2 separate regions of the Homo sapiens genome follow, and region 1 is linked to region 2. A link means that fine-mapping ties the variant in region 2 to the expression of a gene that starts in the linked region. Tissue or cell type: whole blood. Region 2 holds a variant in brackets; the other region holds the start of a gene. All regions are shown on one strand. Distances are between the middles of the regions.

What was found. PIP is the estimated chance that this variant, and not a neighbour inherited with it, causes the effect.
Region 1: FMNL1-DT starts here. The variant in region 2 is fine-mapped to the expression of FMNL1-DT in whole blood (TOPMed, PIP 0.98).

What each region holds. Positions count from the first base shown.
Region 1 is chr17:45,220,660-45,223,413 of GRCh38, forward strand. FMNL1-DT (FMNL1 divergent transcript) reads right to left here and starts at 1,106. Exons shown (of 3, transcript NR_147507.1): 1 at 690-1,106. FMNL1 (formin like 1) reads left to right here and starts at 1,226. Exons shown (of 27, transcript NM_005892.4): 1 at 1,226-1,594. The coding sequence starts at 1,466. RefSeq lists silencers at 801-1,250, 1,261-1,310, 1,591-1,700, 1,623-1,917 and enhancers at 1,764-2,264, 2,265-2,754.
Region 2 is chr17:45,326,860-45,329,613 of GRCh38, forward strand. It overlaps the pseudogene RNA5SP443. Among named protein-coding and RNA genes, the nearest start is that of MAP3K14, 11 kb to the left of the region's middle. The variant G/A (reference allele first, on the strand shown) is at 1,061.

The sequences.
Region 1 (2,754 bases), 110 kb before region 2:
ATGGGACCCCAGCCCCCCATACTCTCCCGTCCTACATGAGATGGGCAGTGGAGGGCCAGGACAGCAACTCCAAGCCAGTGTAGGTTTTGGAGGTAGACAGTGAGGAGGCTTGCTTCTGTCCTTTGTTAGCTGAGTGCCCTTGGACAGCTTACTTACCTACTCTCAGCCTCAGTTTCCCCATCTCTAAAATAAGGCTACCAATACCTACCTTCTCTGGCCATTGTCAGGATGAATGAAAGAGCTCTGAAAGTATTTCTGTAATTAGCAGACATCAGAGATTGTTATTCTCCAAGGTAAGAGGCCCCCCTAGATCCCTGGCGGTGACAGTGTCAAGATTCTTTTTCCCTCCTCTGCGGTGCCCACTCCTTTTCCAGCCTTGTGGCTGGCTCTCATCCTCCTTTCCGCAACCCCCCACTCCTCCTTGGGACCACCTTGGCGGGCCCAGCTTCTCGCAGCCTGCCATATTCCATAGGTGCCCCCATTCTAAAACCTGTAGGGGTGCCCTGCACAGGCGCACGGTTGGTCGAGGTGGGACAGGTGGCGGGGGTCTCCACTGGCCTGCGTCCGCGCCCCCCACCCTGTTTAGGAGTTCCTGTTTGGAGATGGCTCCCCCTCGTCCTCAGCTCGTCTCTGGGCTAAGCAGGGGAGGAGAGAAATAAAAGGTGGGGGGCCTGGAAGGGGGTTCCCACCTTCTCAGTCCGGGACGCGAGACGGGAACGCAGCCCTGGCGCCCCAACGCTGCACCACCGTGGGTCTCCGAGCCGTGCTCGCAGTCGCTGAGATCCTCGGTGCGGAGAAGATGTGCCCCTCCAATCCCCAGGCCGTGATCCCCTTCACCCAGACCCGGCCAATCCCTCGCCCGAGGCGAGCGGGAGGATGCGGTTCTAGGACCCGGAGGCGCCGCCGAGCGCGCCGCCGCCTCGGCCTCGCCTCGGTGGCCTCCCGCTCCGGCAGGTGAAGCGGCGCCGGCCGCCCCCTCTGCGGCAGGTGAAGCGGCTCGGCAGCCCACTCCCCGCCCGCCATGGTTGCGGGGGTCCCCCGGCCAGCGCCCGCCCCCTCCCTCCAGCCCGCCCCCCTGGGGCTGGGTGCCCGGCGGCGGCGGCGGCGAACTGCGGTTTGCGCGCACGGGGAGCGACAGCAGAAGTTCGAAAATCGCCGAGGGGGGAGCCAGCGCCGCAGCTTCCTGCCCCCGGCCCAGCCCTCTGGCCCCGGCGGCCTGCAGCCTGACTTCCTCCCCCAACCCTGCAGCTCGCCGCCCGGTCCCACGGACGGGGCCGCCCCGATGGGACGCCGCGCTCCGGCCCCTGCGCGCCGCTGAGCCGAGCGCCCCCCGCTGCCGAGACCCCCGCCGCCACCGCCAGCCGCTGCCCCCTCGCCCCCGCCCGGGCCGGGAGCCTCGTCCCCGTCCCCCGGAAAGCTGGATTTCCGAGGCTGGAGGCGCCTGGCCGGCTGGGTGGGGACCACCATGGGCAACGCGGCCGGCAGCGCCGAGCAGCCCGCGGGCCCCGCCGCGCCGCCCCCCAAGCAGCCCGCGCCTCCCAAGCAGCCGATGCCCGCGGCCGGAGAGCTGGAGGAGAGGTTCAACCGCGCCCTGGTGAGTGCGACCCGGAGGCGGGTCGGGCGCGGGCGGGGGGCGGCAGGGGCGCGGCAGGGGCTGGGCGCGCGTCCCCGCCCCCGGGGACTCAGGTGCCGCTTGGAGATCCCCGGTCCGGCAGCTGCCCCCTCCAGGAGGTGGGAGCGACAGTGGCCTTTTTTTCAGAGTGACTTAGCACTCTCCCCCCAAAACTTTCTTCAGTTATCGCCCGGTCTCCCTCCCTAAGACGCCTCCACCCCAGCTGGGTCTTAAGGTCTAAACAAGTATGTCCTGTGAAGAAGTTGGGAGCGGGGCACGCACAGGGGTCCCGGGTCGCCCCCTTCCCCACTGCACGCAGGCCCAGCCACCGGGCGCGGGTCTGGGGCATCTGCCTTTCTGTGTCTGGAGTCAAAGATGAAAGGGTTACAACCTCCCGGGAGCGGGAGACCTGCTGGAGGTGTTGGGTCCTGATTTGTTGGGCGCCTGGGCTGCGGGGAATGGGGTTGTCGGATCATGGCCAGGAGGTATCTGTGTTTCTACCCCGCCATATGTCAGAGCCAGGGTGCCTGTGGGTCTTTATCTTGGGGCATCCTTTCCAAGCCACTGAAGGGAGTAAGATGAGGGAGGGTGGGGTCAGGACGGGTGGGTCGCCCAGGCTAGGGGTGGAGCAAAATCTGGAACCACCCCCCTCTGTGCCTACCTGGGGAATTGGAGCGGGGTCGCTGGGGAATAGGTCTCTGGGAGGGAACCAGCAGCTCAGGCCGAGCCTGGAAACAGTCAACATGTTCAGTGGGGTGGGGGCTCCAGAGCAGACTCAGGGGTCTCCAAGACCCTGCATAAGGCAGAAGTAGGGAGAGGAAGAGCTGCTCACTCTCACTCTCCCCACCCCCGACGCCCTGGCCCTGGCTCCCTCCTCTAACTAATTGCCTGGTGGCCTGCCTGCTGTCAGCCTTCCCTTGCTGGACGCTGGGTGACAGGCAAAATGAGGCTGTGCCTTCTCCCAGATGCATTTCCCAGTCCCTGCAGGTCTGAGGGTGGGGGCTCAACGGAGACACAGGCCGCAGAGGGTTCTGGCTCAGTTGGTGGCCCTCCATCTCCTTGACATCATTTCCCCTCGCCTGGCTGGTCATTAGGCCATACGTGCTAGATCCTCAGCATGGCTCCAGAGGGTCACCTCCTAA
Region 2 (2,754 bases):
CAAAGGGAGGCATGTGGTTCCCGAGGGGTGCACTAGATGATGTGTGGTGGCCCACAGCTCTAAGAAACATTGGATCTCATGCTGAGCTAGTTATTCTCTAATTCTTTTTTAGATTTGTCTATTTCTTGAATAATTGATGCATGCGGTTTGTACAAATTCCAAAAGAGCATGCTTCTCCCACCTCTGGCCCCAGGCTCTTTTTTTCTTTTTCTTTTCTTTTCTTTTCTTTTTTTTTTTTTTTTGAGATGGAGTCTTGCTCTGTTGCCCAGGCTGGAGTGCAGTGGCTCAGTCTTGGCTCACTGCAACCTCTGCCTCCCGGGTTCAAGTGCTTCTCCTGCCTCAGCCTCCCAAGTAGCTGAGATTACAGGCATCCACCACCAGGCCCAGCTAATTTTTGTATTTTTAGTAGAGATGGGGTTTCACCGTGTTGGCCATGCTGGTCTTGAACTCCTGACTTCTGGTGATCCGCCCATCTCGGCCTCCCAGAGTGCTGGGATTACAGGCATGAGCCACTGTGCTTGGCCCCCAGGCTCTTTTGAAGCAACCATTCTCCCATCCAGGTACCAACCAGGCCTGACCCTGCTTAGCTTCCAAGATCAGATGAGATCGGGCGTGTTCAGGGTGGTATGGCAGTAGACGAAGCAATCATTCTTACCAGTTCCTTGTGTATTTTTCCAGATGTACTTCAGCATGTGCAAACGATACATTCCTATAGCCTCTTTCTAAAAAGTTAATGGAAGCATACTATCCACAACTGCCCTGTACCTTGCCTATCTCACTTATCAGTGGGTTCCACATCATACATATAGAACTGCCTCCTTCTTTTATAAAGACTCATGCTATTCAACTGTATGACTGGTATATAATTTACCCAGTTCACTGTTGATAGACTTGTTTCCAACCATTTCCAACCATTATAAGAATTGTTGCAATAAATATCCTTATATGTATTTCATTTTGCATATTAGTTAATCCATGCGTTCCACAAATATTTTCCGAACACCTACTATGCACCAGGTCAGGTCTAGGCACCAGAGGCAGAGCAGTGAACACAATAGAT[G/A]GAGTCCCTGCATCATGGAGCTGCCATTCTGTAGTGGAGAATAGCCATAGGATTAACTACTAGAAGTGGGTCACACTTTCAATTCTTCTAATTAAGTCAAGTAGAAAGTCTCACTTTGGTGCCAATGTGTCTTTTTTTTTTTTTTTTTTTTTTTTTTTTGAGACTGAGTCTCGCTCTGTTGTCCAGGCTGGAGTGCAGTGGTGCAATCTCGGCTCACTACAACCTCCACCTTCCCGGGTTCAAGTGATTTTCCTGCCTCTGCCTCCCGAGTAGCTGGGATTACAGGTGTGTGTGCCACCAAGCCCAGCTAATTTTTGTATTTTTGGTAGAGATGGGGTTTCACCATTTTGGACAGGCTGGTCTCGAACTCCTGACCTCAAGTGATCCACCGGCCTCGGCCTCCCAAAGTACTGGGATTACAGGCATGAGCCACCGCACCTCGCTGAGTGCCGATATGTCTTTAATGTATCTCTCTCTGACACTTGTAAATTTCTTTAAGACAGAAAGTGCTGGCCTTAGGTTTAGAGTGTATGACAGACCACAGAGCCTAGCTAGAGTTGAATAACAATGTTTGGTTGTTACTGGATTTATTTCTATATAGCAAATGTTATTGATTTTCCATCTATAGTCAAAATATGAAGGTTCCCTTTAAAATACGCAGGTTCCTTTCAAAATAATTTTTTAAACTTATTTTTTATTTTATTTTATTTTTTTGAGGCAAGGTCTCTCTCTGTCACCCAAGCTGGAGTGCAGTGGCACCATCATGCCTCACTGCAGCCTCAACTTCCTGGGCTCAAACAATCCTCCCATCTCAGCCTCCCAAGTAGCTGGGACTACAGGCATGCACCACCATGCCTGGCTAATTTTGTTTATTTTTTGTAGAGACAGGGTCTCACTATGTTGCCCAGGCTGGTCTCCAACAACTGGATTCAAGCAATCCTCCCACCTCAGCCTCCCAAAGTGCTGGGATTACAGGCATGAACCACCGTGCCCAGCCTCAAAATAATTTAAGTAAAAAAAAAATGAGTCAATATAGAGAAGAATGTTAAGTAAATTAATAACATAGGTGGAATTCAGATGTGGAAAAAACCCACAAAGGTGATAGTCAAATGAGTGAGGTTAGGAAATCATCAAATTAAACAAAGCAAGGAGAAAAGGCTAGGCTTATTATATTGTATTTTATGTTTATTTTTGTATCTTCACTCATCTTTCATGTTGAAACATTCTCACCTCCATAATTCTTCCTAGGCAGCTGATTTGCTTATCATTTATTATTGTTTACTACTTATTTGGTGATTCTTATACTTAGATTTCCTGGAGTTCCTGGTCATGAAAATTTTGCTTTGTGGGTTTTTTTTTTTTTTTTTTGAGATGGAGTCTCGCTCTGCCACCAGGCTGGAGTGCAGTGGCGTGATCTCGGCTCACCACAACCTCTGTCTCCCAGGTTCAAGTGATTCTCCTGCCTGAGACTCCCGAGTAGCTGGGATTACAGGTGCATGCCACCAAGCCTTGCTAATTTTTGTATTTTTAGTAGAGATGGGGTTTCGCCATGTTGACCAGGCTAGTCTCGAACTCCTAACCTTGTGATCCGTCCGCCTTGGGCTCCCAAAGTGTTGGGATTACAGGCGTGAGCCACCGCGCCGGGCGCTTTGTTTTGCTTTCATGAACTGTCACCAATTTGCATTCTCTTAGAA